Linked DNA regions of Homo sapiens. The protein of the gene in region 2 interacts with the protein of the main gene of each other region in a pairwise test. Each region holds a gene or a part of one and is shown on either strand. Other genes may lie near its edges.

Region 1 (15,280 bases), on a different chromosome or scaffold from region 2:
AAAGGAAACCAGTAAGCAGTCAGATCCCATTCTCCCTTCCCCTACCCCCAGGAACCACCAGTTTGCCTTTTTTCTCTATGGATTTACCTATTTTTGATATTTCATATCAATAGAATCATATAATATGTGGTCTTAGTGTCTGGGGAACTTAACTTTAGGTGGGTTAAAGTTGTTGTTGCTGTTTTTTTGAGACAGGGTCTAGGTGTCTTACTCAGGCTGGAGTGCAGAGGCACAAATTTGGCTCACTGCAACCTCTGCCTCCCAGGCTCAAGCTATCCTCCTAACTCAGCCTCCAGAGTAGCTGGGCTACAGGCACCTGCCACCACGCCTGGCTAATTTTTGTATTTTTAGTAGAGACGAGATTTTATCACACTGCCCAGGCTGTTCTCAAACTCCTGGGATCAAGCGATCCACCTACCTTGGCCTCCCAAAGTGCTGGAATTCTAGGCGTGAGCCACCATGCCCAGTCTTTAACTAGTTTTCGTGAGCACCTAGGCTCCCCTTCCATTGCGGATACTCACAAAAACATCCTTGTTAGAAGAGTTATTAGGACTCAGGGCCTTGGTTTATTTTTGACTATGATACTAGTGTTGAGGACTCCATAGTTTTACCATTCATAATTTTCTGTTTGTTTCCTTTTTTGCGATTTCTTTCATTCTGCCTTTTTCTTTCTCTTGCTTGTGCCTAAAACTGTCGTCATAAATAGCTCTGTCTATATACTGAGAATTTTTTTCTGGGCATGAGCTTTCACTTCCCCAGATACCGTCTCCCACACTGACCTTGTCGTGGTACTTGGAGGAAGCCACTTAAAGGGCCCTGACGGTCCTATATACATTATTTGCTTTCAAAAGTAAGTGGCCTTTTGAAACAACAGGAGTAATCTGCAATTTGCCCTTGAAAACACATTTATATAACTTTAGGAAAAGACATTATGTAATCTATTTATATTTCAAGTCTATGATGAATTAAAAATCAGGTATTATGGTATTGTAGAATAGTGTTTACCAGTACAGTATTTTCCTCTTTCGTAACCAACAGTAAGAACTGTAGAAACAACACTTCACATTCTGATATGGTAGGGATGTGTGTTTTCAATAAATATGTGTGGACAATCATAGTATATATGTAAACATGAAACAAAAGTTTTACCAAACAGTGCTCACCTTTACTGCATTGTATGCATTTTGATATTTTCCACAAACAGTGCTCACCTTTACTGCATTGTATGCATTTTGATATTTTCCACACTATATTCTATTTTTAATGCTTATTGCAATCTTGTGAATTGATTTCATAGCCATTGCTAAATCTATAACATAATTTAAAACATATTGCAGCAGCTACATGAATATTCCTATGGTAGCCAAATCAAAGGCCTTATTAGCTTTTCAGGAAGAGTTCTGTTTTCCTGGAACTGTTGTTTATTATTGTTCTTATCATGTCTAGAACCTAATTTATTTGAGTTCAGATATACAGACTGCAGAAGGACTTGGGCAGGGTTGGGCATGGGGACAGTTTTTATAGTACAACTCACAGTATTTTGTACAATACAAAGCTGTCCCCATCCCCAGCCCTGGGGAGGAATTGGTGATCATTGACATCCTTGACTGTGAATTAGTTTTCATTTTAGCTAGATGTCTTGTTGGAGAGTAGAGATCAGCATTCCCAAGACAGAGAGCTCAGGACCTGTAACTTTTCTTGGAGAACAGACCTGGAGAAATGGGGAAAGCCGGGGAACCTGAGTAGTTCCCGGGCAAGGCCTGCTAGCATCCTCACCCCACGTCAGGCTCTGGCCTCCAGGCTGCTCCAAGCAAGAGCCCACACACTTTCCTTATGTAGTCTTCATGCCTGCTGTGGCGTTGGGTACACCTGCGTTTACTTTCCTGCAACTTCCCTTCTCCCAGCTTCCTCTTAGGCTTGCTTTCCTATGCTTCCAGAGGAGTACCTGCTCCAGGACATGGAATGGGAGGAGAGGAGGCCTCTGATATTGGCAGCTTCTTCTGAACCCCAGTCAGTCAAGAATTCTACCTTTAGGTTGGGCACGGTGGCTCATGCCTGTAATCCCAGCACTTTGGGAGGCTGAGGCGCAGATCACTTAAGGTCAGGAGTTGGAGACCAGCTTGGCCAACATGGTGAAACCCTGTCTCTACTAAAAATACAAAAATTAGCCGGGCATGGTGGTGCACAACTGTCATCCCAGCTACTCAGGAGGCTGAGGCAGGAGAATCTCTTGAACCCAGGAGGCAGAGGTTGCAGCAAGCCAAGATCGTGCCACTGCACTCCAGCCTGGGAGACAGAGTGAGACTCTGTATCAAAAAAAAAAAAAAGAATTTTGTCTTTAATTCTGCTTTTTCTGTAGCAGAGATTTTTGTTCACTTACTGCTCTTGCATCTGCTCCATCTAGAACAGTGTTTTAAAGATGTATTTTTCTGTTTTGTCCTTGAATATCTCCCTGCTATCTCTCTCCTGTGTGTAAGGACCAAGTTGTTGGCATGTGTGGTTGGTGTGCAGCCAAAGTCAGTAGGACTCCAGAATTCCCAAGCTTTGGGCATCATCACGTTAAGCTAGCCATTCACATGTCCACATACTGCCTACTGTAGCTAAAAGGATGGGCAGATTCATTTGTTTGGTGACATGCAAAGAGAAAAAGATGGTACTCTTTTAGAAGTAGGTCATGAATCACAAGTTTTTAAGGAGAGAATAGCGTGGAGTGGTCAAAAGGTATGACCTTTGGAGCTGGGCAGACCTAGGTTCAAACCCTGGCTCCTCTACTTCATAGCTGTGTGACTTTGGATTAGTTACTTAGCCTCTCTGTGCCTCCATGTTGTCATTTATAAAATGGTAGTTATAATGCTCATGTCATAGAAATGTTAGAATTATATGAACTAAGGCAAGTGAAGTATCTGGCACATAGTAGGTGCTCAAAAAGATGGTAAGGTTTTTTCATACACCAATGCTTCCATATTCCAGAAAAGCTTTTGAAGAGTTGATACCAAATAAATTATCTAAATATAAGACAATCTTCACACAAGCATGCAAGAACATTTTCCCCTTCAGAACTAGGACAAAAGAAAAAAGCAAAAACCCTTGCCCTTAACTTCTAGTGGCAAATAAACATGCATACAGTATTTGTTTGTTTTTTTAACTTTTATTATGGGATTTTTCAAACATACCCAAAAATGAACAGTATAGTTACTCCCCATACCCATCATCCAGCTTCAACATTATTTACATGTCACCAATCTTGTTTTATCTAAACCCTCAAGTTTCCTCCTCTCCCAACTGTATAATTTTAAAGCAAATCCCAGATATCATATTATGTCATTCATAAAAACATCAGTAAGCATCCTTAGAGATTAGAACTCTTTTTTCCACATAACCACAATACAATTATAATACCTAAAAAATGAACATTTCCTTCTGTTTTTTTGTTTGTTTGTTTGTTTTGAGACACATTCTTACTCTGTTGCTAAGGCTGGAGTTCAGTAGCACAATCATGGCTCATCCACAGTCTCAACCTCCTGGGCTCAAGCAATCCTCCTGCCTCAGACTCCAAAGTAGCTGGGACTACAGGCACACACCACCACGACCAGCTAATTTTTGTATTTATTTTAATAGACATAGGATTTTGCTGCATTGCCCAGGCTGGTCTGGAACTCCTGGGTTCAATCAGTCCTCCTGCCTCGGCTTCCCGAAGTGCTGGCATTACAGGCGTGAGCCACCGTGCCCGGCCTAACAATTCCTTAATATCATCTGATAATCAGTCAGTGTTCATATTTACCTTATTGTCTCATAAATACCTTTTAACAGTTGGTTTGTTTGAATCAGGTTCAAACAAGGTCCACCATTACATTTTAATCTGTAACTGCCCCCCCACCCCTTTTTTATTGCTATTTATTTGTCAAAGAAACTAAGCCATCTGTCTTAGTTCTTATTTGTCAAAGAAACTAAGCCATCTGTCTTTTCTACATACTGGATCTGGCTGACTGCGTCTTCAACTCATGGATCTTAACATGTATGAAATGTTTCAATTCATTTCCATCATTATTCTTTTGATGGTCAAATTGGTGATCAACATGTCACATCTTTGGTCAGTGGGAGCCCTTTGAGATTGACTCCAGCGTCTTTTTGACCTAACCCTGATATTCTTTGAAGATGTTCAATGTTCATCTTGTGTATTTCCTACCCCAGATCTGGAACTAGTCATTTCTTTAAGAAGCCCCAGTTCTTTTCATTGGAAAATGGTGTTTGTTTGAATCTGAGGGAGTAAAACATTCCAGTAATGCTGGTGTTTTCCACTTGACAGAGTTAGTGTGATTCTGTTATTTTCCTGTCCTCCTCTTCATTTCTCTTTAGCCTGTAGTGTTGTTTCAACTCTTGTGCTCTGTGTGGGAATGTGAGCAAAGTCCTGGGACTTCTGCTTTGTTAACTCTGAAAAAGCATGAGCCCCGAAGGGCAGAACTGTGAGTCAAAACCATGTGTGTCATGGAATGCTGGTGTGGTATAAATCCCAGGATCAAATGCGACATTCAGAGATCCTCTAGTCACCCCTCTGCTTCCAGGACAGATCTCATCACAGTCAGAAAACGTGTTGCCTAACTCACTAATTTTTAAAAATCGCCACAGTTAAAGAGTCCGTATTTAAACTATTTAATAATTTGCTGTATTCGATAACAAAACTACTCTAGAGCAATTTAGAAGAGCCTAAATTAAGTGAAACTTAGCAAATCGTATGAGAACTGAATTCAGGACCTCTGCTGCCTTTTTTGTGAAACCATAGCTTAACCAAAAAAAAAAACAGAGATGAATGATAAGAGATTTGGGCACCTTCACAAGCACTTTCTCCTTGACCTGAGTTGTGCTAGGACTGGAGGAAAAGCGAGATACTTAAACTCAAATTTCAGCCTAAGGGTCTTGAGCTAGTTGGAATTGTCTAGTCACCTTGCATTGGTTTTGTCCTTTCTTTGATGCTGGTATATACTACATTTTTTCTTTTCTTTTTTTTTCCGACATTCTTTAATTTCACAAAAACCAGAATATCAAACCCATAGTATCAAGAAAAGGTAACACCTTAGGCAGCGATATTTAACCAAGGGATTATACATTCTTCCTGAGCTCTAGCCTATAAAAATTTCATGTTTCCACAAGTATAATGTTCCTGTCGGAAGTACCGTCTGCCTGAGGCCTACCCAGAGAAGATGTTTTTTAAAACAAGTACTTACTGCCTAAGTACTAAATACAGAGTAAAGTCTAGTGACAGTTTTATTTTCAGACTAAGTGATAGTATCTGAAGAGCTTAGTTGTATTTATTAGTTTTCACATTGTGTCAGTCTCTCAGGTGTCATCTTGATTCATGTATGTAAGTATGCATGTTCATGTCCACTTTTTCCCCTCTGTGCATCACAAAAGCCCATAATCTGGCCAGGCTTCCAAAACTGCAGAGGAGAATTGCATTATTTTAAGGTTCCTTGGCCAGGTGCAGTGGCTTATGCCTGTAATCCCAGCACTTTGGGAGGCTGAGGTGGGTGGATCACTTGAGGCCAGGAGCATGAGACTAGCTGGCAAGCATGGTGAAACCCCATCTCTACTAAAAATACAAAAATTAGCTGGGCAGCCGGGCGCGGTGGCTCACACCTGTAATCCTAGCACTTTGGGAGGCCGAGGTGGGTGGATCACGAGGTCAGAAGATAGAGACCATCCTGGCTAACACGGTGAAACCCCATTTCTTCTAAAAATACAAAAAATTAGCCGGGCGCGGTGGCAGGCACCTGTAGTCCCAGCTACTAGGGAGGCTGAGGCAAGAGAATGGCGTGAACCCGGGAGGTGGAGTTAGCAGTGAGCCGAGATAGAGATAGCGCCACTGCAGTCCGGCCTGGGCGAAAGAGCGAGACTCTGTCTCAAAAAAAAAAAAAAATTAGCTGGGCATGGCGGTGCGTGCTTGTAATCCCAGCTACTTGGGAGGCTGAGGCAGGAGGATTGCTTGAACTGGGGAGGCAGAGGTTGCAGTGAGCCAAAATCGCACCACTGCTCTCCAGCTTGGGTGACAGAGCAAGACTCCATCTCAAAAAAAAATTGGTTCCTCTAGATCAGCATTTTTGCATATGCATGTTTTTGTGATATTAAAGTGCCAGAACCACAAACAAAAAAAATTAAAAATAAAAAAAAATGTTTAAGTGCCAGAAGCCATTCATTCTTTTCTTTCAGCACCCACACACTCATTGTGATCTTGAGAACAGCCTCACATCCACAGGGTCTGTTGGTACCAAGGTCAGGCTTCTGTGTGACTGGGGCAAGGTGAACACAGAGTAAGTTACATGCATTGCAAAGGTAAGAGAGTGATACTTCCAGAAAAGATTGTGAATTCAAAATTTGATTTATAGCTCTGAACCCTAGAGCTATATAATATACAACTTGTTCATTCCCTCATTGTACTAAAAAACTATAAACATTGCTAAGTAGGAGGGAAGATGAACCTAGATTTCCTTTTAACTTAATTAAGTGAGCAAACAATTGGGTATAAAAGCACACTACATGGAAGTGGGAGAGGAAGGATAATAGTAATTTCTTAAACTGCTTAATCGTTATGGTTTCCAAAGTGAATGTATGTCCTGTTTCACACGGGATGCTCCAGTTGCCAGATTTGTAGGCCAGACAGGAATTAGAATTCCATTTTAATGATTCTGAGCTTAATTCAGAGAAGTTAAGTGATCCCTGAACAGAGTCAATATTAGAATACAAATATGTGCCTACCACATGCAGGGCACAGGGTACTGGAGGTTCAGAGATTAACAGGAACAGTTCTTACCCTTAAGGATCAATGTAGACACAAGTGTGTATTCACATTCATCACTGGAGACATTCATTCCTTCCCTGTGACAGATCTCCTGCCAGGCCACCCCTTCATTGTCTGGAGACCCTCTCCCAACTTTGCTTAGGTAGCTTGACCTCAACCCTACACTACCAGGCTCTGCTCTGCTGTCTCTGAGTTGGTACTACTCTAGCTTTGCTCTTCATTTTGGAAATAGATGCCAACATATTGTATTTTATTTTCTATTTCTAGAATTTCCACTTGGTAGTTCTTTGCTGATATTTCCTATTTTCAGTTCATTTCTATAAAATATTTTTCTTTTTTTTTTTTTTTGCACATGGTTGTAATACATTCTTCAAAATCCTTATCTGCTAATTCCAACATCTGGGTCAACTTGAGGTTGGTTTCCGCTCACTGTCTTTTTACTTAAGACTGGGTCACTTTTTTTTTTTTTTTTTTAGAGACAGAGTCTCACTCTGTTGCCCAGGCTGGAGTACAATGGTGTGATGATACCTCACTGTAGCCTCGATCTCCCAGGCTCAACTTGTCCTCCCACCTGGGCTTCCCAAAGTGTTGAGATTACAGGTGTGAGCCACCACACCTGGCAGCCCCCTTTTTCTTTTATTTGACAAAAAATTATATATATTTATAGTGTATAACATAATGTTTTGAAATATGCATAACTTGTGAGATGGCTAAATCAAACTTATAACATGTATTACCTCAAATACTTATCATTTTTTGTGGTGAGACCACTTAAAGTCTACTCTCTTAGCAATTGTCAAGTATACAACACATTGTTATTAACTATAGTCACCGTATTATACAAGAGATTTTTCTAACTAATTCCTTTTAACAGAAATTTTGTACCCTTTGACCAATGTCTCCCCAGTCTACCCTACCCACCCATCCAACCCCAGCCTCTACTAACCACCATTCTCTTCTCTGCTTCCATGAGTTCAACTGTTTTCGATTCCACATATAAGTGAAATCATGCTATATTTGTCTTTCGGTGCCTGCCATATTTCACTTAACATTATGCCCTCTCGGCTCATCCATGTTGTTGCAAATGACAGAATTTCCTTCTTTTTTAAGGCTGAATAGTATTCCACTGTGTATATACATCATATTTTTTATTCATTCATTCATTCATCAGTGGATACCTAGTTTGATTCCATAACTGGGCTATTATAAATAATTCTGCAATGAACATGAGATTGCAGCTATTGACATCCTGGTCTTTTTTTTTTTTTTTTTTTTTTTGAGATGGGGTCTCGCTCTGTCGGCCAGGCTGGAGTGCAATGGCGCAATCTCAGCTCACTGCAACCTCCGCCTCCTGCGTTCAAGCAATTCTCCTGCCTCAGCCTCCCGAGGAGCTGGGATTATAGGTATGCGCTACCAAGCCTGGCTAATTTTTGTAATTTTAGTAGAGACAGGGTTTTGCCATGTTGGCCAGGCTGGTCTCAAACTCCTGACCTCAGGTGATCCACCCACCTTGGCCTCCCAAAGTGCTGGGATTACAGGCGTGAGCCACCGTGCCCAGCCAGCATCCTAATTTTATTTCCTTTGGATGTATGCCCAGCAGTGGAATTGCTGTATTATATAATAGTTCTATTTTTAGTTTTAGAGGAACCTTCATACTGTTTTTCGTAATGGCTATGCCAATTTAAATTCCCACCATCAGTATAGATGGGCTTCCTTTCCCCGTATCCTCACCAACACTTGTTATCTGTCATCTTTTTGATAATATCCATTCTAACAGGTATGAAGTGATAACTCATTGTGGTTTTAATGTTCATTTCCCTGATTAGTGATGTTGAGCATTTTTTCATATACTTGTTGGCCATTTGTATGTCTTCTTTTGAAAAATGTCTATTCAGATCCTTTGTCCATTTTTAAATCAGGTGATTTGTTATCTTGCTGTTGAGTTATAGGAGTTCCTTATATATTTTGGATATTAACCCTTTATCAGACGTATGGTTTGCAAATATTTGCTTTCATTTCATAAATTTTCTCTTCACTGTTGATTGTTTCCTTTGCTGTGCAGAAGCTTTTTACTTTGATACAGTCCCAGTTGTCTACTTCTCCTTTTATTGCCTGTGCTTTTATGGTCATTATAAAAAATTACTGCCCAGACAATGTCATGAAGCTTTTCCTCTATGTTTTCTGCTAGTAGTTTTACAGTTTCAGGTCTTATGTGTAAACCATTAATCCATTTAAGTTGGTTGTTGTATATAGTGTGAGAGAAGGGGGACAAGACGTCCAGAGTTTATCACTTTTGTGTATATTGGTTGGATCTGGTGATAACGATTTGGCTCTATGTCCCCACCCAAATCTCAACTTGTAGCTCCCATAATTCCCATGTGTTGTAGGAGGGACCCAGTAGGAGATGATTGAATCATGGAGACGGGTCTTTCCTGTGTTGTTGTCATGATAGTAAAATGGGTCTCTCAAGATCAGATGGTTTTAAAAACAGGAGTTTCCCTGCACAAGCTCTCTCTTTGCCCGCTGCCATCCAAGTAAGATGTGACTTGCTCCTCCTTACCTTCTGCTATGATTATGAGGCCTCCCCAGCCATGTGGAACTGTAAGTCCAATAAACCATTTTCTTGTATAAATTACAGGAAAAAAGACTCTGGATTTTGTTATATTCCTTCAAAGAGTGTTGGTGTTTTTGCTTTAGCAGCCAATTAATTTGGTTTTACTCAAGCAGCAGACTCTTTCTCTCTTGAGCAGAAGCTTAAATATCACTTCAGTTCTTTTATCTTTAGCAGAGGTGCTTCTCATCTTTCCTACAAATGCATAGTTCAAGGGTCAGCCAAACCCTAGGACAGAAGTTATACTGAAATTTAGGGCTCCCCCTCTCTGACTTTTTCCTTTCCAGGATTCTCTCCTAACTTTCCAGTGACTGTGATTGCCCTGAACTCTGTCCTCTGGTTCTGTAGGCCAAAAAGACTACGGATTTTCTATCTGGGTTTTAGTCACCTTTTATGTTATATAGGCACTGCTGTTATATAGGAAAAACCAAACTATTTTCCCCAAACTGTTTTCTCTTACCCAGCACTTCACTCAATCCTTCTGACACCGTATGTCTGGAGCTTGTTTCTCCACATACCAAGCAACCAATTCTCCTGCAGATTCTCCAGTGGACACCAGCTGGGTATCCTTGAATATAATTCAATTCTGGACACTATCTACCTCTAATATAACTCAATTCTGACACTATCTATCTACCTGGAGATAGAGTCAGATTCCACAGATTAAGGGCTCAGTTTCACAACGCTGCCTTCCACTTCAAATGGCAGTCATAAGTCTGGGCCTCCAGACTTCTGACCACACTATACATTGGGAGTTCCTAAGGCCCCCTGCTCAGATTCGATTAATTTGCTAGCATGATTCACAGAACTCAGGGAACCACTTTACTTACTTTTATCCATTCGTTATAAAGAAAATTACAGAGGATACAGATGAACAGCCACATGGTAGAGATGCATAGGGCAGCGATTGTGGGAAGGAGCACAGAGTTTCCATGCCCTCTCTTGGGCACTACCTTCCAGGAACCTCCATGTGTTCACCTATTTTTGGTTGATACTCCAAAAACCTTGGTTGGTCTGGCATGAGTGGCCAAGAACATCGGCTGCTCTGCTGACCTGCTCAGGAAAGAAGTAGAAGAATGACTGAGATGATGGGTACCTTGTGACTATGTTAGGAGATAACCCCAGGGATTGTGGTTTGGACCCAGATATAGTGAGAGATTTCTACATTCTCCTGTGTAAGCAAACTAAAGACTGTAGAGGAAAACTACTGTCATGGACATTGGCCGTAGAATTGGGAGTCCTGAATCCCATTATTAATTTGCCTCTAACTCCAAAACCTTTAAGAAATCCCCTCTGGTGGCACGTGCCTGTAATCCCAGCTACTCACGAGGCTGAGGCAGGAGAATTCCTTGAACCCCGGAGGCGGAGGTTGCGGTGAGCCGAGATCGCGCCACTGTGCTCCAGCCTGGGCAACAGAGTGAGACTGTGTCTCAGAAAAAAAAAGAAAGAAAAAGAAATCCCCTCTACTTTTTTTTTTTTTTTAATTTCTATTTATTTTTATTTTTTGAGACGGAGTCTCACTCTGTCGCCCAGGTTGGAGTGCAGTGGTGTGATCTTGGCTCACTGCAACCTCTGCTGCCCAGGTTCAAGCGATTCTTCTGCCTCAGGCTCCCAAGTAGCTGGGATTACAGGTGCATGCCACCGCACCTGGCTAATTTTTGTGTTTTTAGTAGAGATGGGGTTTCACCATCTTGGCCAGGCTAGTCTTGAACTCCTGACCTTGTGATCCACCCACCTCGGACTCCCAAAGTGCTGGGATTACAGACGTGACCCACTGTGCCCAGCCTAAATCCCCTCAACTTTCTATGTGGATTTTTCCATTGAAAAGGGACAGGTTTCATGGGATGACTGCAGACTAAATGGAGAAAGTGTGCACATGAAGGTATGCGGAGGAAAGAGAAGTCATGGAAGCTGGGAGTGATTTGTTTATATAGACAGTGGCTAGCGTGGAAATCAATGATTGATCCCTTTATGTCAAGTACTCAGCCTTTCCTAATGTCTTCAGGGTAGATCTCTGAAAACCTATCATTCACCTTTGTCCCTTTGAGGGGCAGAGTTTAGGAAGTATTGCTTATATCAAGACAAATGTTTCACAGTATTTTGAGTTGGCTTATTCTCTAATAAAGTCTATTTGTGCATTATCTGCTCTTTACCACCCACTCTCCTAGTAAGAAAACATAAACAAAAGTAAAATATGCTCTCTGCTTGTCGCTTTTGCCTTGTTGATGCGTTCACTTTTTACATTTAAAATTTTTTTAATTTTATTTTTCAGAATCAAAAGCAACAAATGCCACCTTAGATCCCCGGTCATTTCTTCTCAGGAACCCCAATGATAAATATGAACCATTTTGGGAGGATGAGGAGAAAAATGAAAGTGGGTTAACTGAATACAGATTAGTCTCCATCAATAAAAGCAGTCCTCTTCAAAAACAACTTCCTGCATTCATCTCAGAAGATGCCTCCGGATATTTGACCAGCTCCTGGCTGACACTCTTTGTCCCATCTGTGTACACCGGAGTGTTTGTAGTCAGCCTCCCACTAAACATCATGGCCATCGTTGTGTTCATCCTGAAAATGAAGGTCAAGAAGCCGGCGGTGGTGTACATGCTGCACCTGGCCACGGCAGATGTGCTGTTTGTGTCTGTGCTCCCCTTTAAGATCAGCTATTACTTTTCCGGCAGTGATTGGCAGTTTGGGTCTGAATTGTGTCGCTTCGTCACTGCAGCATTTTACTGTAACATGTACGCCTCTATCTTGCTCATGACAGTCATAAGCATTGACCGGTTTCTGGCTGTGGTGTATCCCATGCAGTCCCTCTCCTGGCGTACTCTGGGAAGGGCTTCCTTCACTTGTCTGGCCATCTGGGCTTTGGCCATCGCAGGGGTAGTGCCTCTGCTCCTCAAGGAGCAAACCATCCAGGTGCCCGGGCTCAACATCACTACCTGTCATGATGTGCTCAATGAAACCCTGCTCGAAGGCTACTATGCCTACTACTTCTCAGCCTTCTCTGCTGTCTTCTTTTTTGTGCCGCTGATCATTTCCACGGTCTGTTATGTGTCTATCATTCGATGTCTTAGCTCTTCCGCAGTTGCCAACCGCAGCAAGAAGTCCCGGGCTTTGTTCCTGTCAGCTGCTGTTTTCTGCATCTTCATCATTTGCTTCGGACCCACAAACGTCCTCCTGATTGCGCATTACTCATTCCTTTCTCACACTTCCACCACAGAGGCTGCCTACTTTGCCTACCTCCTCTGTGTCTGTGTCAGCAGCATAAGCTGCTGCATCGACCCCCTAATTTACTATTACGCTTCCTCTGAGTGCCAGAGGTACGTCTACAGTATCTTATGCTGCAAAGAAAGTTCCGATCCCAGCAGTTATAACAGCAGTGGGCAGTTGATGGCAAGTAAAATGGATACCTGCTCTAGTAACCTGAATAACAGCATATACAAAAAGCTGTTAACTTAGGAAAAGGGACTGCTGGGAGGTTAAAAAGAAAAGTTTATAAAAGTGAATAACCTGAGGATTCTATTAGTCCCCACCCAAACTTTATTGATTCACCTCCTAAAACAACAGATGTACGACTTGCATACCTGCTTTTTATGGGAGCTGTCAAGCATGTATTTTTGTCAATTACCAGAAAGATAACAGGACGAGATGACGGTGTTATTCCAAGGGAATATTGCCAATGCTACAGTAATAAATGAATGTCACTTCTGGATATAGCTAGGTGACATATACATACTTACATGTGTGTATATGTAGATGTATGCACACACATATATTATTTGCAGTGCAGTATAGAATAGGCACTTTAAAACACTCTTTCCCCGCACCCCAGCAATTATGAAAATAATCTCTGATTCCCTGATTTAATATGCAAAGTCTAGGTTGGTAGAGTTTAGCCCTGAACATTTCATGGTGTTCATCAACAGTGAGAGACTCCATAGTTTGGGCTTGTACCACTTTTGCAAATAAGTGTATTTTGAAATTGTTTGACGGCAAGGTTTAAGTTATTAAGAGGTAAGACTTAGTACTATCTGTGCGTAGAAGTTCTAGTGTTTTCAATTTTAAACATATCCAAGTTTGAATTCCTAAAATTATGGAAACAGATGAAAAGCCTCTGTTTTGATATGGGTAGTATTTTTTACATTTTACACACTGTACACATAAGCCAAAACTGAGCATAAGTCCTCTAGTGAATGTAGGCTGGCTTTCAGAGTAGGCTATTCCTGAGAGCTGCATGTGTCCGCCCCCGATGGAGGACTCCAGGCAGCAGACACATGCCAGGGCCATGTCAGACACAGATTGGCCAGAAACCTTCCTGCTGAGCCTCACAGCAGTGAGACTGGGGCCACTACATTTGCTCCATCCTCCTGGGATTGGCTGTGAACTGATCATGTTTATGAGAAACTGGCAAAGCAGAATGTGATATCCTAGGAGGTAATGACCATGAAAGACTTCTCTACCCATCTTAAAAACAACGAAAGAAGGCATGGACTTCTGGATGCCCATCCACTGGGTGTAAACACATCTAGTAGTTGTTCTGAAATGTCAGTTCTGATATGGAAGCACCCATTATGCGCTGTGGCCACTCCAATAGGTGCTGAGTGTACAGAGTGGAATAAGACAGAGACCTGCCCTCAAGAGCAAAGTAGATCATGCATAGAGTGTGATGTATGTGTAATAAATATGTTTCACACAAACAAGGCCTGTCAGCTAAAGAAGTTTGAACATTTGGGTTACTATTTCTTGTGGTTATAACTTAATGAAAACAATGCAGTACAGGACATATATTTTTTAAAATAAGTCTGATTTAATTGGGCACTATTTATTTACAAATGTTTTGCTCAATAGATTGCTCAAATCAGGTTTTCTTTTAAGAATCAATCATGTCAGTCTGCTTAGAAATAACAGAAGAAAATAGAATTGACATTGAAATCTAGGAAAATTATTCTATAATTTCCATTTACTTAAGACTTAATGAGACTTTAAAAGCATTTTTTAACCTCCTAAGTATCAAGTATAGAAAATCTTCATGGAATTCACAAAGTAATTTGGAAATTAGGTTGAAACATATCTCTTATCTTACGAAAAAATGGTAGCATTTTAAACAAAATAGAAAGTTGCAAGGCAAATGTTTATTTAAAAGAGCAGGCCAGGCGCGGTGGCTCACGCCTGTAATCCCAGCACTTTGGGAGGCTGAGGCGGGTGGATCACGAGGTCAGGAGATCGAGACCATCCTGGCTAACACGGTGAAACCCGTCTCTACTAAAAATGCAAAAAAAATTAGCCGGGCGTGGTGGCAGGCACCTGTAGTCCCAGCTACTCGGGAGGCTGAGGCAGGAGACTGGCGTGAACCCAGGAGGCGGACCTTGTAGTGAGCCGAGATCGCGCCACTGTGCTCCAGCCTGGGCAACAGAGCAAGACTCCATCTCAAAAAATAAAAATAAATAAAAAATAAAAAAATAAAAGAGCAAACTATTTCCAAATACCATAGAATAACTTACATAAAAGTAATATAACTGTATTGTAAGTAGAAGCTAGCACTGGTTTTATTAATTTAGTGACTATTCATTTTATCTAAATCAGTGAAGATTTACTGTCATTGTTTATTAGTCTGTATATATTAAAATATGATATCATTAATGTACTTACAAAATAGTATGTCACTGTTTTTATGTTCATTCTTAAAAACATAACCTGTATTAATAAATGTGAACATTTGCTTGGTATCTCTTTGGAACAAATTAGTATTATATCTTTCTGGTCCTGGCACACTTTAAGGGTTTAACTGAAGAGCATTTAATGAAGAGGTGATTTACAAAGGTGTAGACAGGGTTAAGGGAACCAACGGGGACTGGTGAAGCACCCCCCAGAGA
Region 2 (16,188 bases):
TTGACAATTAGAGGTTACTGGTGATCTCAGAGTAGTTTATAGAGAAGTCAGATTGCACTGGGTCTAAGAATGAGTGAGAAGACCAGGCGCAGTGGCTCACGTCTAATCCCAGCACTTGGGGAGGCCGAGGTAGGCGGATCACGAGGTCAGGATGGCCAACGTGGTGAAACCCCATCTCTACTAAAAATACAAAAATTAGCTGGGTGTGGTGGCATGCATCTGTAATCCCAGCTGCTTGGGAGGCTGAGGCAGGAGAATTGCTTGAACCGGGAGGCAGAGGTTGCAGTGAGCTGAGATCACACCATTGCACTCCAGCCTAGGCAACAGAGCAAGACTCTGTCTCAAAAAAAAAAAAAAAAAAAAAAAGAATGAGTGAGAAATAAGGAAGCAGAAGAAATGGGTATAGGTTACTTTTCCAGAAATTTTGCAAAGTGGAGGAGATAACAATGCCTTAAATATAAGAAATTTATTAATATTATTAATTGATTAATAATTGATCACTGCCATATGACTTGGATTTTACATTTCCACCACTTCTTCGTGTTACTTCTTTCTACCCTATTATATCAGCGTCCCATCCCAAGTCTGACACACCTGGAAGTATTGAATGTTGTATTTTGATTGTGGATGACTTGTTTATTTGGTTATATCTTTTGAACGCCTCAGGTGATTCTGTCTGTCTTTGGAGGATGGGCCATAGGCTTCCTGCCCCAACTCCATTATCTGTTTTCCACAAAGATAGATAAACATTCACTTATCAGACTAATTCAGCAAAGCATACACGTTCTTAGGTTCTTAGCAAACCAAGTACTTTGTCCACCTCTCCTCTCCATCTCCCCTCCCTCAAATCTTCAGTGGGCAGATGTGGGAGAAGAAAGGAGCTGTCACTCCAAACCTTCTGGTGTTTCAGTTGGGGAGTCTGGCTTCACAGTGAGCTGAAACTTTCCCTTGCCAGCCTCCATCAATCCAGCCCCTTCTGAGGGGGCTGGAGAGTAATTAACATCGCCGTCCACCTGTGCACAGGAAGATGCCTACAGCCACACCAGCAATGATGAAACTGCCCACCAGGACGCCCAGGACCAGCGAAGTGTAGGAGCGGCTTGTTTGGCTCCCTGCAGAACATGCAAAGAGTTAGCCCGAAGAATAGGCCCCCAAGGAGTCCATGATTTGAGTCAAACCCCAAAGCGTTTCTGCCCCAGAGGAAAGGGACCCGTTTACCAACTGACTGAAGCTGCGTGTGTTCTGTCCCAAACCCCCAGCTGTGGGCCTCTTGTTGCTCTAGGCATCCATCCTTCAGGTCCATCCATTTGTCTGGAACCCGCCCTCTCCCCAGCTTGCAGGCCTGGGCCCCGTCCCATCATACCTTTCGTGTTTTCCGCGGAAATATGTTTCTGCACATACTGCACACAGGTGTCCTCCAGGAATTCCCGCAGTTCATACCGAGTGCGGTTGTAGGCATTGAGCTGCTGCAGGGTGAAGGTGACCACTCCGGAGGTGACCTGGGTGTCTGCCTGCCACAAGGCTCTCTCCGGCCGGAAACTCACAAAGGAGCTCCCATTCACAGCCACTTCGAAGAAGACATGGGCTCTAGAGCCCTCGGGAGGCAGCTCACAGCCCAGGAAGCAGCGGATGGTCAGAGGAACTGTGGATAGACAGTCAGGGTCAGGGGACTGTGCAGAGAGGGTGCCAGGTGTGGGGCGAGGCCCACCAAGGGGAAAAGAACATGAGAAGGCAAGAGTCAGTGCTGTGAGGAGAGGGGAGTCTAGGTCAGGGAACTATGGGGAGAAGGGCCTGGGGCTGTGAGGAGGGGTTTGGGGTTAGCCTGTTAGAGGCTAAGAAAGAAGGGGCCAGGGACTGTGATGAAAAAAGGGAATTGTCAGGCCTTGTTCAACTGTAATAGAAAAAAAAAACAGGGGGTGAGGCTGGGGCAGGGGCGGCAGCTCACGCCTGTAATCCCAGCACTTTGGGAGGCCAGGCTTGTGGATCGCCTGAGGTCAGGAGTTCGAGACCAGCCTGGCCAACATGGCGAAACCCCGTCTCTACTAAAAATACAAAAAATTAGCCGGGCGTGGTGGCGGGTGCCTGTAGTCCCAGCTGCTTGGGAGGCTGAGGCAGGAGAATCGCTTGAACCCGGGAGGCGGAAGTTGCAGTGAGCCGAGATCGCGCCACTGCACTCCAGCCTGGACGACAGAGCAAGACTCCGTCTCAAAAAAAAAAAAAAAAAAAAAAAAGGGGGGTGGGGTGGGGGACTAGGAGAGAAAGGAGTTAAAGGCCATGATGGTGGGGGAAGGGGGACGGAGTGGTGCTTGGTGCTTTGAGAAAAGAAATTGGGGTCTTTGAGAAGAAGGAGTTAGGGTTGTGACGGGGAAGGAGTGGGGCTTTGAGAGAAGAACTTGGGGTCTTTGGGGGAAGAGTTCGGGTCATGAGTGGAGCTAAGAGCGAAGTCATCAGCTTGTATGAGAAGTGGCTGGAGGGTGGGGGGTGAAGTGCTGGGGGCTGTGGGAAGGGAAGGACGGAGATCTATGAAGAAAAGGAGTTGGAGGACTGTGAGGCGAGGGGTGAGGAGTTTTCTGGGGACCTTCGACGTCACGGTGTCAGGGCCTTCCAACAGGGTCTATCCCAAGAGGTTATGCCAGCAGGACGACCGCCCGAGTCGGGGCTTTCTTAGCGGGGACAACTGCCTCTCTCCAGCCCCCACCCAGCAATCTTCAAAGGCCCAGGCGCCACCGAGCTCCAGTGGCTGCCGGGTCCCTGCAAGTCCCAGCCCGCCTCCATCCGCCAGGCCCCGCCCCCACCCGCCAGGCCCCGCCCCCACTAGCCCCGCCCAGACCCCGCCCCCGCTGCGCGCCTACTCACAGGCCAAGGTCCGCTCCTGGTGCACCAGGCGCACGAGGCCGTGGAACTGGAGCAGGTAGGACTGCAGGCCACTCTGCGTGCGCGCCCAGCTCTCGGGCTCCTGCAAGGGCTGCAGCTGAATGATCGTGGTGTTGGTGTCTGGGCCTTCCAGCACGTGCGTTAGGTGTCCCCCCAGCGACGCGTTGCCCTGGTACCACACGTGATAGGGGTCGCGGAAGTAGGAGATCTGGAGCATATGAAGTCTTTGGAGGCCTGCGGGCAGAGTCAGCTTCAGCCTGGGCCGGCGTGGGAGGGGGCGGCGGGCAGCGGAAGATAATAACCCCCTACCTCGAGGCTGGCCGCCCGCCTTCTCGACCCTTCATAAACTATAATGTGCCCTCCCACCGCTTCTCCCGTTTGACGCTGACAGTAACTCTGCCAGGAGGACAGGACAGGGATTATTATCTCCGTTTTACAGATGAGGAAACTGAGGCCTGCAGTGGAAGAGACACTCCTTTCTGCCTCCTTTTTCACCCTCGGCTCTCCCTCCCCCCGTTTCCTGTTAACCAACGGAACAAATGGTTAACAAATCCTGACCTGAATAAAATTCCAATTCCATCGCCTGTTCTCCATCTCCTCTTCCACTGCCCTGATTCAGGATTCATCCGTCTCATCTAGACTGGGGTAGTAACTTTCTACTTCATCTCCCCGTTCTCTATTCCGACCTCCACCTGACCCAGGGATGAGATCATGTCCTTTTCCTACTTAAAATCTTCCAGTGCCATAACCCCCTCCCCTTCATTAATCAAAAATAATCATAGCCAATGTCGATTCAGTGCTTATTATAACCTGGGCAATGGGCTTTACATACATTATTATCTTTGTGCCTTTCCCCAGTGGCTTAATGCAATAGCTACTATTATTAACCCCAGTCTACATGGGAAACTGAGACAGAGATAGTGTAGCAGAGCCAAGGTTTGCACGTAGGCAGTCAAGTCCAGCACTCAGCCATTCTGCTACACTGCCTCCCCACAGGATCAAGTCCAGAGTCTTTAGCCTGGCATTCAAGGCTGCTAGAGACCTGGCCCCTGCTGCCTTTTCTGGCCGCTTCCCGCTGCTTATATATCAAACTAGTTGGGATTCCTCATGCTGCCTTTGGCTGACACATGAATAGCATGTCAGGATTGCTCTGCCTCCCTTTTTCTGCCTGGCGAAGTTTATTCATGATTTAAGACCCAGCTCAGAGACTGGGCGCGGTGGCTCATGCCTGTAATCCCAGTACTTTGGGAGGCCGAGGCGGGCGGATCACTTGAGGTCAGGGATTCAAGACCAGCCTGGCCAACATGGCGAAACCCCATCTGTACTAAAAATACAAATATTAGCCAGGCGTGGTGGTACATGCCTGTAGTCCCAGCTACTCAGGAGGCTGAGGCAGGAGAATCGCCTGAACCTGGGAGTTGGAGGTTACAGTTAGCTGAAATTGTGCCACTGCATTCCAGCCTGGGTGACAGCACAAGACTCCATCTCAAAAAAAAAAAAAAAAAAAAAAAAGAAAAAAGAAAGAAAAGCAAAGAAAAAAAGACCCAGCTCAGTTGCCCTCTTCTTGGAAATTTTTTTCTGATGCCCCACGAGACACAGTGTGTCTGTTTCAGTGATCCCAGACCACCATATATTAGTGTGTATCTCACGGGATACTACCTGGCTGTCTCCAAACACACACAGGCCACACTGGACTCCTCTAGGCTATGGAACCATGCTTGGTAATCTCTGCTTCCTACACCCAGAAAAGAGGCTGGCACAGAGTTGATGCCCAGAGCACATTTGGATGAGTCCGGGGTTGTAAATCTGTGTGTGTGAGTGGGTCCTGTCTGTGTTTGCATTTGAGAAGTTGTGCTTTGTATCTGCAGATGTGAATAAGTATATTTATGGATAACCCTAGACATGGTCCTTAACTACTCTGTGACCCAGTTTCCTCCTCATAAAATGGAGATAGTAATAATATTACCCACCTTTAGGGGTTTGTGCAAGTTAAATGGGTCAATACATGTATTAACCATAGTGAGCACTCATTGAATACTGGTTATTATTTGCTGCCTCTCTGAGGGGGAGACTGAAGTTACGGGGATTGTGAGAGAGGGGAAAGGAGGCCCCTGTGCAATTATAATGGAGGGTAATAACTCCCTTTTCTGCTTAAACAGGGCCACTTCAGTAGCCTGATCGCCCATAAGTTCTATTAGGCACAGCATCTCTTTCTCCCCAGTTCCACCAGCTGCGACCAGTCTCCTTCCATTTTCCCTAGCCTCCCCTAACCTCTCTCTGCCCCACTCTTCCCCCACTTCTTCCATCAGTTTTCCCAGGGTCTTCCCATTCCCTCCATTTCTCTTCTCTTCTGAGCCTCTTCCCGTCTCCCCTAGATGTACCCCTATCTACCATCACCCTCAGTTCCCCTTTCTCCCCTCTCCCTGGGGCTGATTCTCCTACCCTCTCTGCTGGTTTCTTTCTCATGTTTCCAGTCATCCTGTTTCCCCTAGCCTCTTTCATCTCCCCCTTTTCAGGGGCTTAAATGTACTAACTCACCTTGGCTTTGGGACACGAACCAGTCCCCAAGACTCTGCCTGCCCTGTAGAGAGATCTAGCCAGCTGCAGACACAGATGCTGTGAGATAAGCTCTCCTGTGGTCTTGCCATGTGCCCAGATAGACTGAGATTCTCCAGAACCATCCTGAGGCAGGAGATGTGCCCCCGACTCACCATCTGAGGCGTCTTGGCTACAAAAGGCCCAGCCAGACAGCAGCAGTATCGGCAGCAATGTTGTCAACATCCTGAAGTTGAGGCTCCGGACCTGGGTTCCTGGCTCGGGCCGGCTGCGGGCTCCGCTGGCTGCAGTCTAGGGAAAAGAGAAGTGAGGACCGTCTGGGAGGGGCGGAGTCTGGGCAGAGGAGGATGGAAGGAGGCCAGGAGATGGGAGGAGGAAGAGGCTTATAAAGTGTTATTTCTACTGTGTCTCATTTCCTACTAGGGGGCCGGCCTCCCTCCTGCCCTCCCTCTGCCCCGCCCTTCATTGCTCCCTCCTGCCCAGACCTGCCTTTTCCCTTCTCCTTGGGCTGCTTCCTAGGAACCAGGAACAGGGAGCGGAAAAGGGGGAGAAGGGCTTGGTGAGAAGTCCTGCCGGCGCTGACTCAGGGGGTGGGGCATCTACTTTCAACTTAGAGCACACTCCTGGGAGTAGGATCAGCAGGTTGCTGATGGGGAGATTGAGGTCCAGAGAGGTGCAGGGACTTGCCCAAAGTTTATATATCATGGTGGTGACAGATCCAAGATTAAAATTTAGTTTTCCAGTATAATGGCTACATTTTACCAGAATTTTAAGTAAATAACAATTACATAATCCGGGATCTTGGTCTCAGAAGTAGTCATAAAATGAGTGTAAAGCAGTTCACTGCAGCATGTTTTTAAAAAATAGGAGAGAATTATGAGCAATCTGTATAAATCTCAGAAGATGATTGGTTACCTAAAGCAATCTTTTTGAAACTGAGGTCATAATTTATTAGTGGACAATGAAATCAATTTAGCAGGTCATGGTTACCATTTTTAAAAAATGAAATAGGACAGAATACAAAATTTCAGCGCGTCACCCTTAGTAAGAGAAAGTGTTATGTCATGAAATATTTGCTCAGTTGTATATGTGTGCTTTGGTTTTGTGTGTGTATGTTTCTATGATGAGTTTTGGATAGCAGTGTAAAATGCGTCCCTTACTCTAGGAAGCAAGTAGAAAAGCTTTAAAGTCACTCCTCCGAGCATGCTGCTGGCACTTTGGGAGGCCGAGGTGGGCAGATCACTTGAGGCCAGGAGTTTGAGACCAGCCTGGCCAATATGGCGAACGTCTCTACGAAAAATACAAAAATTAGCTGGGCATGGTGGTGCATGCCTGTAATCCCAGCTACTTGGGAGACCGAGGCATGAGAATCGCTTGAACCTGGGAGGTGGAGGTTGCAGAGGGCCGAGATCACACCACTGCATTCTAGCCTGGGTCATGCGGCAAGATTCTGTCTGAAAAAAAAAAAGAAAAGATTTCACTTCTGTTCAAATAATACATATGTAATTTCATCCTCATATATATATATAAAATTTATTATTATTTTTTTGAGACAGGGTCTAGCTCTGTTGCCCAGGCTATAGTGCAGTGAAGCAATCACAGCTAATTGTAGGCTTGACCTCCCGGGCTCAAGTGATTCTCCCACCTCAACCACCCGAGTAGCTGAGACTAAAGGTACGTGCCACTGTGCCACCACGCCTAGCTATTTTTTTTTATTTTTACTAGAGATGTGGTCTCGCTATGTTGCCCAGGCTGGTCTTGAACTCCTGCACTCAAGCAATCCTCTGGTATAGGCAGGAGCCACTGCACCTGGCCAAAATTAACTTTCAGTGTGTATCTGTGTATTTGTATATACATAGGGAAAATATCTGGAGGGGTACTGTCAATAGAGATTACCTCTGGGGAATAGGATTGGGTAAAGGACTGAGAGGGATTTTAACTTTTTATTTTATATACTTCTCCCCGGAGAGCTGACGTCATAGTGAAATCTGGGACAAACTCTGGACATAAACTAAGCACCCATTCTCTGAACTGAATATATGCAAGAGCTTCCATGCTCACCTCTCAGCTGTTGCAAACTGGCTAAGAAATAGCATCAAAGTCTTTTCTTTTTGCAGCTTATCAAAATGGTCTAGTTGGAACAAGGATAGGAACTTTGTTTTCCTGCACTGGGCCTCAGGAAAAGTAGAATGACTTAAATAACTACCAATTTATATTGTCTTGCCTTTTATTAAAAATTATGAAACATTTCTTTTTTCTTTTTTTTTTTCTTTTTTTTGAGATGGAGTCTTGCTGTAATGCAGTGGCGTGATCTCGGCTCACTGCAACCTCCACCTCCCAGATTCAAGCGATTCTCCTGCCTCAGCCTCCCAAGTAGCTGGGATTACAGTCACCTGCCACCACACCTGGCTAATTTTTGTATTTTTAGTAGAGATGGGATTTCACCATGTTGGCCAGGTTGGTCTCAAACTCCTGACCTCAGGTGATCCGCCCACTTCAGCCTCCCAACATGCTGGGATTACAAGCCTGAGCCACTGTGCACAGCCTGAAATATTTCATTTTTGAAGAGTTATTTCATGCTTAAAGGATTACATTTCAAACATACCTATCCCCACCACCAAGCATAAGAAATACAATATTGCTAATATAGTTGAAGCCCCCTATGGACTCTTCCTCAGCTGCATCTCTCTCTCCCTGCCACAGCCCCTGAAGTAACCACTTCAGATGAAAATGAAGATTTGATATTTTTCATTTCCTTATATTTCTGTATACTTACACTACTTATGTATATATCCCTAAACAATAGATAGTGGTATTTCACATATTTTGAGCTTTATATAAATGGTATTAAAATGTATGTATTCCTCTGTACCTTTTGCTTTTTTCACTTAATGTATTAATAAGATTCATTCATGTGGCTATGTGTAGACCATTCATTTTCACTGCTTTAAAATATTCCGGCTGGGGAGGTATTATCCCAGCACTTTGGGAGGCCGAGGTGGGTGGATCATTTGAGCCCAGGAGTTCAAGACCAGCCTGGGCAACATAGTGAGACCCCCATCTCTACAAAAAAAATAAAATTAGCTGGGTGTGATGGGTTGTGCCTGTGGTCTCAGCTACTCAGGAGGCTGAGGTAGGAGGATTGCTTGAGCCCAGGAGGTTGAGACTGCAGTGAGCCATGATCATGCCACTGCACTCTAGCCTGGGCAACAGAGCAAGACCCTGTCTCAAAAAAAAAAATCAATTTTGGGAATAGATCATTATTTATGTATCCATTCTCTTGTTGCTGAACACTTAAGTTTTTTCCAGTTTTTTGCTATTACAAACAGTGCTGGTATGAACATTCTCATACTCGAGTCCTTGTGCATATGTGGGAGTTTTTGTAGGTGCAAACTTGACAGTGGAATTTCTGAGTAATAAAGTATATGCATCTTCAGTTTTACTAGATATTGCCAAACTGTTTTACAGAAAGGTTGTGCCAATTTACGTTCCCAGCAGTGTATGAGAATTCCCTCGCTTCACATCCTTGCCAGCCCTTGGCATTATCAGATGGTTGGGTGTAAAATGGCATTTCTCTTTGGTTTTAGTTTGCATTTTTCTGGTTCTTAGTGAGGTTGTGCATATTTTTGCTTTGCCTTTTTTCTCCCTTGAAGGCTTGAAGGGTACTTTGGGATGGATAAGAGAGGGCAAAAGAGTGTACGATTGAACCAATTTGGAATTGAATGCTGTGAGCCTTCCATCTAAGCGGGTAGGGTCTGGGTCCACTTTCATCCACATTATCTTACACAGAGCTCATTACATCAAGGGCTTTCTTTCCTTTTCTTTCTTTCTTTTTTTTTTTTTTTTTTTGAGATGGAGTCTCGCTCTGTTGCCCAGACTGGAGTGCAATGGTATGATCTCTGCTCACTGCAACCTCCACCTCCTGGATTCAAGCAATTCTCCTGCCTCAGCCTCCCAAGTAGCTGGGATTACAGGCAGGTGCCACCATGCCTGGCTAATTTTTGCATTTTTAGTAGAGATAGGGTTTCATCATGTTGGCCAGGCTGGTCTCGAATTCCTGACCTCAAGTGATCCATCTGCCTTGGCCTCCCAAAGTGCTGGGATTACAGGCACGAGCCCCCACGCCCAGCCACATGGAGGCCTTTCTAATCAGGTTAAGATCCATCATGGACAGATAGCAGCAGCAACAGCTATTTCCCAAGCACCCCTCTCATATACTAGAGCCCTGAAAATTGAACAGTGAGACAATGATAGCATTATTATAGGTAACACTTATTGTAGGCCAGAAACAGTGTTCGGCTCTTTACTTAAATAATCTTACTTTATTCTTATGCTAGCCCTGTGAAATGGGTTTCACTAGCATCACCATTTTACTAAGAAACTGAGGCTCAGAGAGGTTAAGTGACTTACCTAAGGTCACACAGCAAAAGCTATAATTTGAAAGTTTCTCTCTCTCTCTGGTGCCAAAGTTTGTGAATTTAACTCCCACACAGTGACTCAAAAATTATTTTGATCACTTTCCATCAATACATTTTTTTAACACATACCTCCAACATGCTTGAATGTTTAATATATATGTTATAAAACATTCTTTAAATTCATACTATGTGCTAGGCCTTTAATCACTTTCTCTGGGGCAGACCATGCTCATTGTTTCCATGCTACAGACAAAAAAATAAATAAAATAAAGCTGCCTGGGTGTAGTGGCTCATGCCTGTAAATTAGTGACCAGCATGGCAACATATGAGACTCCATCTCTACAAAAAAATTTTTTTTAAATTAGCCAGGCATGGTAGTACACACCTGTGGTCCCATCTACTTGGGAGGCTGAGGCAGGAGTATGGCTTGAGCCCAGGATGTCAAAAGGTCAAGGCTGCAGTGAGCTATGTCTGTGCCTCTGCACCCCAGCCTGGGTGACAGAAAGAGACCCTGTCTCAAACAAAACAAAACAAAACAAACAACAACCAAAAAAACTGGGCATGGTGGCTCATGCCTGTAATCCCAGCATTTTGGGAGGCCCAGGCAGAAGGATCCCTTGAGCCCAGGAGTTTGGACCAACCTGGGCAACCTGATGAATCCTCCTCTGCTCCTCTGTACAAAAAAAAAAAAAAAAAATCAAAGCCCAGAAAAATAGTTAAGTAACTTGCCCAAGGTCACACAGCTTGGAAGTGCAGAGCGAGGATTTGAACTCAGAAAGTATGGGACTGGGCATGCCTGTAATCCCAGCACTCTGGGAGGCCAAGGTGGATGGATCACCTGAGGTCAGGAGTTTGAGACCAGCCTGGGCAACATGGTAAAACCCCGTCTCTACTAAAAATACAAAAATTAGCTGGGCATGGTGGCGTGCCTGTAATCCCAGCTACTCAGGAGGTTGAGGTGGGAGACTTACTTGAACCCGGGAGGTGGAGGTTGCAGTAAGCCGAGATCCTGCCACTGCACTCCAGCCTGGGCAACAGAACAAGACTCCATCTCAAAAAAAAAAAAAAAAAAAAAAAAAAGCATGGAAGTATGGAGCTGGGAACAGAGAAAATAAAAAGAGTGTTGCGGGTAGGGAAGTTGGGAGGGGGGCAACTTGAGCCTTTTCTCATTCTAAACCCAGGGATGGGGGTGGGGAAGAAAAGAGAAATGCTGCTGTTGGAGCCATGGCCTACACTGCATCTGGCCTGGGTGGCTGAGGTGTAGAAAATCACAGAGTGGGCACCAGGCCAGCAGCTGGGATTTGACTGAGACCTAAAGAATGAGGGTCCCGTTGAGCAAAGGGAAATGAAGGAAGCAAGCGGTGGTGTTTCCTACTCCAGAGAGCACATGCTGGAGGAAGATAAGGGAGACAGGAAGCTGAGCTGGGGCCAGTGCTGGTGCAGCCCCAGTGGGTGAGGGAGGCCTTGCCAGGGCAGCAGGAGCAGGGACAGGCCAGGGACTGGCCGTGTGCCCAGCTGGACTTCAGAGGACCAGGCTCTCCCACCCCTGTTGTTAGCTACTGAAGAACGGCAGTTTAAGCAACCTGGCCCAATTTGGGTAACAAAGGAGTGTGGACCCTTCAAAGGCACTTCCCCCTTAGGATGAGGAATAATAACAATAACATGTGCGAAGAGCTTACAATGTGCCAGGCACAGTATTAAGTAAGCAGAGTCCATGTATTTTTTTCTCACTAGTACCCTGTGAAAAGTCTGAAGAAAGTCCAGGCCAGGTGCTCAGGCCTGTAATCCTAGCACTTTGGGGGGCCAAGCTGGGAGGATTGCTTGAGTCCAGGAGTTTGAGACCAGCCTGGGTAATATAGCAAGACCCTGTTGAAAGACAGGCAGACAGAAATAAAGAGAGAGAGAGAGGAGGGAAGGAAGGAAAGAAGGAGAAAGAAAAAAGAAAGAAGGAAAGAAGAAAAGAAAGAAAGAGAGAAAGAAAAGAAAAGAAGAAGGGGGAAAGAGGGAGGGAGGAAGGGAGGGAGGGAGGGAGACAGAAAAGGAGGGAGGGAGGGCAGTCTGAAGAAATAGCCGTCGTTCCCATTTTACAGATGAGGACACAGAAGCACAGAACAGGGAACTGAGCTGCTCAAAGACATCCAGCTAGTAAAAGGCAGAGCTGGGACTCATACCCAGGTGAGTTGGATGCCAAAACATGCTTTCTTCATTATTAGACCATCTCATGAGGATAAACAAGATGATGCATTCAAAACTCCCAGAACACAGTACGTGTTCAGTAGGTGGGAGAGATAAGAAAGGAGCTTAGCAGCAAACAGAACGGACCCTGTCCAGGAGGGATGGACATCAAGTATGACTTCTTGAAGAGAAGGCAAAGGAATAGATGTTAAGTCTTAATCAGAATTTCCCCCTGTATCATCCCCCCAACACCCCCCAACTTAGGGAACATGAAAAGAAGCTCCAAACACTCAGGATGATGCCTGCTCTTGCCTGCCCCAGCAATTGATGGGAGCCTAGTATTGTTGGCTTGGCTCCTGCCTATCTCTCTAGCCTTATCTATCCATGTATTCCAGTTTCAGCCAAATCCATTCCTCCTGGTTTCCTGAACACAGAACACATAAATATTAACTTTTCACTTTTTTTTTTTTTACAGTAAGCTAAGGTTAATTTATTACTGAAGAAAGAAAAATATTTTTGCATAAACTTAGTGCAGCCTAAGTGAACAGTATTGATAAATTCTACAGTAGTGTACAGTAATGTCGTAGGCCATCACATTTGCTCACCACTCACTCACTGACCCACTCAGAGCAACACCAAGTCCTTCAAGCTCCATGCATGAAGTACACACTCTACAGGTGTACCTTTTAAAATCGACTATACCATATTTTTACTGTACCTTTTCTGTGTTTAGATTTCTTTTTTTAATTTTTATTATACTTTAAGTTTGGGGTACATGTGCAGAATGTGCAGGTTTGTTACGCAGGTATACACTTGTCATGGTGGTTTGCTGTACCCATCAACCCGTCATCTACATTAGGTATTTCTCCTAATGCTATCCCTCCCCTAGCCCCCTACCCCCTGACAGGCCCTGGTATGTGATATTCCCCTCCCTGTGTCCATGTGTTCTCATTGTTCACCTCCCACTTATGAGTGATAACATGCAGTGTTTGGTTTTCTGTTTTTGTGTTAGTTTGCTGAGAATGATGGTTTTCAGCCTCATCCATGTCCCTGCAAAGGACATGAACTCATCCTTTTTTATGGCTGCATAGTATTCCATGGTATATATGTGCCACATTTTCTTTATCCAGTCTATCACTGATGGGCATTTGGGTTGGTTCTAAGTCTTTGCTGTTGTGAATAGTGCCACAGTAAACATACCTCTGCATGTATTCTTTATAGTAGAATGATTTATAATCCTTATACCCAGTAATGGGATTGCTGGGTCAAATGGTATTTCTGGTTCTAGATCCTTGAGGAATCACCACACTGTCTTCCACAATGTTTGAACTAATTTACTCTCCCACCAACAGTGTAAAAGCATTCCTATTTCTCCACATCCTCTCCAGCATCTGTTGTTTCCTGACTTTTTAATGATCATCATTCTAACTGGCATGAGATAGTATCTCATTGTGGTTTCGATTTGCATTTCTCTAATGACCAGTGATGATGAGCTGTTTTTCATATGTTTTTTGGCCACATAAATGTCTTCTTTTGAGAAGTGTCTGTTCATATCCTTTGCTCACTTTTTGATGGAGTTGTTTTTTTTCTTGTAAATTTGTTTAAGTTCTTTGTAGATTCTGGATATTAGCCCTTTGTCAGGTGGATAGATTGCAAAAATTTTCTCCCATTCTGTAGGTTGCCTGTTCACTCTGATGATAGTTTCTTTTGCTGTGCAGAAGCTCTTTAGTTTAATTAGGTCCCATTTGCCAATTTTGGCTTTTGTTGCCATTGCTTTTGGTGTTTTAGTCATGAAATCTTTGCCCATGCCTATGTCCTGAATGGTATTGCCTAGGTTTTCTTCTAGGGTTTTTATGGTTTTAGGTCTTATGTTTAAGTCTTTAATCCATCTGGAGTTAATTTTTGTATAAGGTGTAAGGAAGGGGTCCAGTTTCAGTTTTCTGCATATAGCTAGCTAGTTTTTCCAACACCATTTATTAAACAGGGAATCCTTTCCCCATTGCTTGTTTTTGTCAGATTTGTCAAAGATCAGATGGTTGTAGATGTGTGGTGTTACTTCTGAGGGCTTTGTTCTGTTCCATTGGTCTATATATCTGTTTTGGTATATCATGCTGTTTTGTATACTGTAGCCTTGTACTATAGTTTGAAGTCAGGTAGCGTGATGCCTCCAGCTTTGTTCTTTTTGCTTAGGATTGTCTTGGATACGGGGGCTCTTTTTTGTTCCATATTAAATTTAAAGTAGTTTTTTCCAGTTCTGTGAAGGAAGTCAATGGTAGCTTGATGGGAATAGCATTGAATCTATAAATTACTTTGGGCAGTATGGCCATTTTCACGATATTGATTCTTCCTATACATAAGCATGGATTGTTTTTCCATTTATTTGTGACCTCTTATTTCCTTGAGCAGTGGTTTGTAGTTCTCCTTGAAGAGGTCTTCATATCCATTGTAAGTTGTATTCCTAGGTATTTTATTCTCTTTGTAGCAATTGTGAATGGGAGTTCACTCATGATTTGGCTCTGTCTGTTATTGGTGTATAGGAATGCTTGTGATTTTTGCACATTGATTTTGTGGTGTTCTCTGTATTTCCTGAATTTGATTGTTGGCCTGTCTTGCTAGGTTGGGGAAGTTCTCCTAGATAATATCCTGAAGAGTGTTTTCCAACTTGGTTCCATTCTCCCTGTCACTTTCAGGTACACCAACCAAATGTAGATTTGGTCTTTTCACATAGTCCCATATTTCTTGGAGGCTTTGTTTCTTTTCATTCTTTTTTCTCTAATCTTGTCTTCTCGCTTTATTTCATTAAGCTGATCTTCAATCTCTGTTATCCTTTCTTCTGCTTGATAATTCGGCTATTGATACTTGTGTATGCTTCACGAAGTTCTCGTGCTGTGTTTTTCAGCTCCATCAGGTCATTTATGTTCTTCTCTAAACGGTTATTCTAGTCAGCAATTCATCTAACCTTTTTTCAAGGTTCTTAGCTTCCTTGCATTGGGTTAGAACATGCTCCTTTAGCTCGGAGGAGTTTGTTATTACCCACCTTCTGAAGTCTACTTCTGTCAATTCTTCAAACTCATTCTCTGTTTCCAGTTTTGTTCCCTTGCTGGCAAGGAATTGTGATCCTTTGGAGGAGAAGAGGCATTCTGGTTTTTGGAATTTTCAGCCTTTTTGTGCTGGTTTCTCCCCATCTTCATGGATTTATCTACCTTTGGTCTCTGATGTTGGTGACCTTCAGATGGGGTCTCTGAGTGGACGTCCTTTTTGTTGATGTTGATGCTATTCCTTTGTATTTGTTAGTTTTCCTTCTAACAGTCAGGCCCCTCTGCTGCAGGTCTTCTGGAGTTTGCTGGAGGTCCACTCCAGACCCTGTTTGCCTGGGTATCACCACTGGAGGCCGCAGAACAGCAAAGATTGCTGCCTGTTCCTTCCTCTAGAAGCTTTGTCCCAGAGAGGCACCCACCAGATGCCAGCGAGAGCTCTTCTGTATGAGGTGTCTGTTGGCCCCTATGGGAGGTGTCTCCCAGTCAGGATACATAGGGGTCAGGGACCCACTTGAGGAGGCAGTCTGACCCTTATCAGAGCTCGAATGTTGTCCTGGGAGTTCTCTTCGGAGCCATCAGGCAGGGACGTTTAAGTCTGCTGAAGCTGTTTCCAAGCCACCCCTTCCCCCAGGTGCTCTGTCCCAGGGAGATTTTTTTTTTTTTTTGAGATAGAGTCTCACTCTATCACCCAGGCTAGAGTGCAGTGGCACAATCTCGGCTCACTGCAACCTCCACCTCCTGGGTACAAGCAATTCTCCTGCCTCAGCCTCCCGAGTAGCTGGGATTACAGGCCCCTGCCACCACGCCTGGCTCATTTTTTTTGTATTTTAGTAGAGATGGTGTTTCACCATGTTAGTCAGGCTAGTCTCAAACTCCTGACCTCAAATGATCCACTCGTCTCGGCCTCCCAAAGTGCTGGGATTACAGGCGTGAGCCACCGTGCTGGCCAGGGGTTTTATCTGTAAGTCCCTGACTGGGGCTGCTGCCTTTTTTTCAGAGATGCCCTGCCCAGAGAAGAGGAATCTAGAGAGGCAGTCTGGCCACAGCAGCCTTGCTGAGCTGTGGTGGGCTCCACCCAGTTTGAACTTCCCTGCAGCTTTGTTTACACTGTGAGGGTAAAACCACCT

The links.
Region 1: the proteins of PROCR (region 2) and F2R interact in binary tests that used the Homo sapiens proteins (3 or more experiments, as listed by UniProt).

Annotation. Positions count from the first base shown.
Region 1 is NC_000005.10:76,720,638-76,735,917, forward strand, and holds the end of F2R (proteinase-activated receptor 1 isoform 1 precursor), read left to right. Parts: intron 1-8,074; exon of another isoform or gene 8,075-8,196; intron 8,197-11,676; coding exon 11,677-12,866; 3' UTR 12,867-15,133; downstream 15,134-15,280. UniProt on the Homo sapiens protein: High affinity receptor that binds the activated thrombin, leading to calcium release from intracellular stores.
Region 2 is NC_000020.11:35,161,622-35,177,809, reverse strand, and holds PROCR (endothelial protein C receptor precursor), read right to left. Parts: upstream 5,739-16,188; 5' UTR 5,722-5,738; coding exon of another isoform or gene 5,656-5,721; coding exon 5,586-5,655; intron 3,109-5,585; coding exon 2,857-3,108; intron 1,643-2,856; coding exon 1,364-1,642; intron 1,113-1,363; coding exon 997-1,112; 3' UTR 448-996; downstream 1-447. UniProt on the Homo sapiens protein: Binds activated protein C. Enhances protein C activation by the thrombin-thrombomodulin complex; plays a role in the protein C pathway controlling blood coagulation.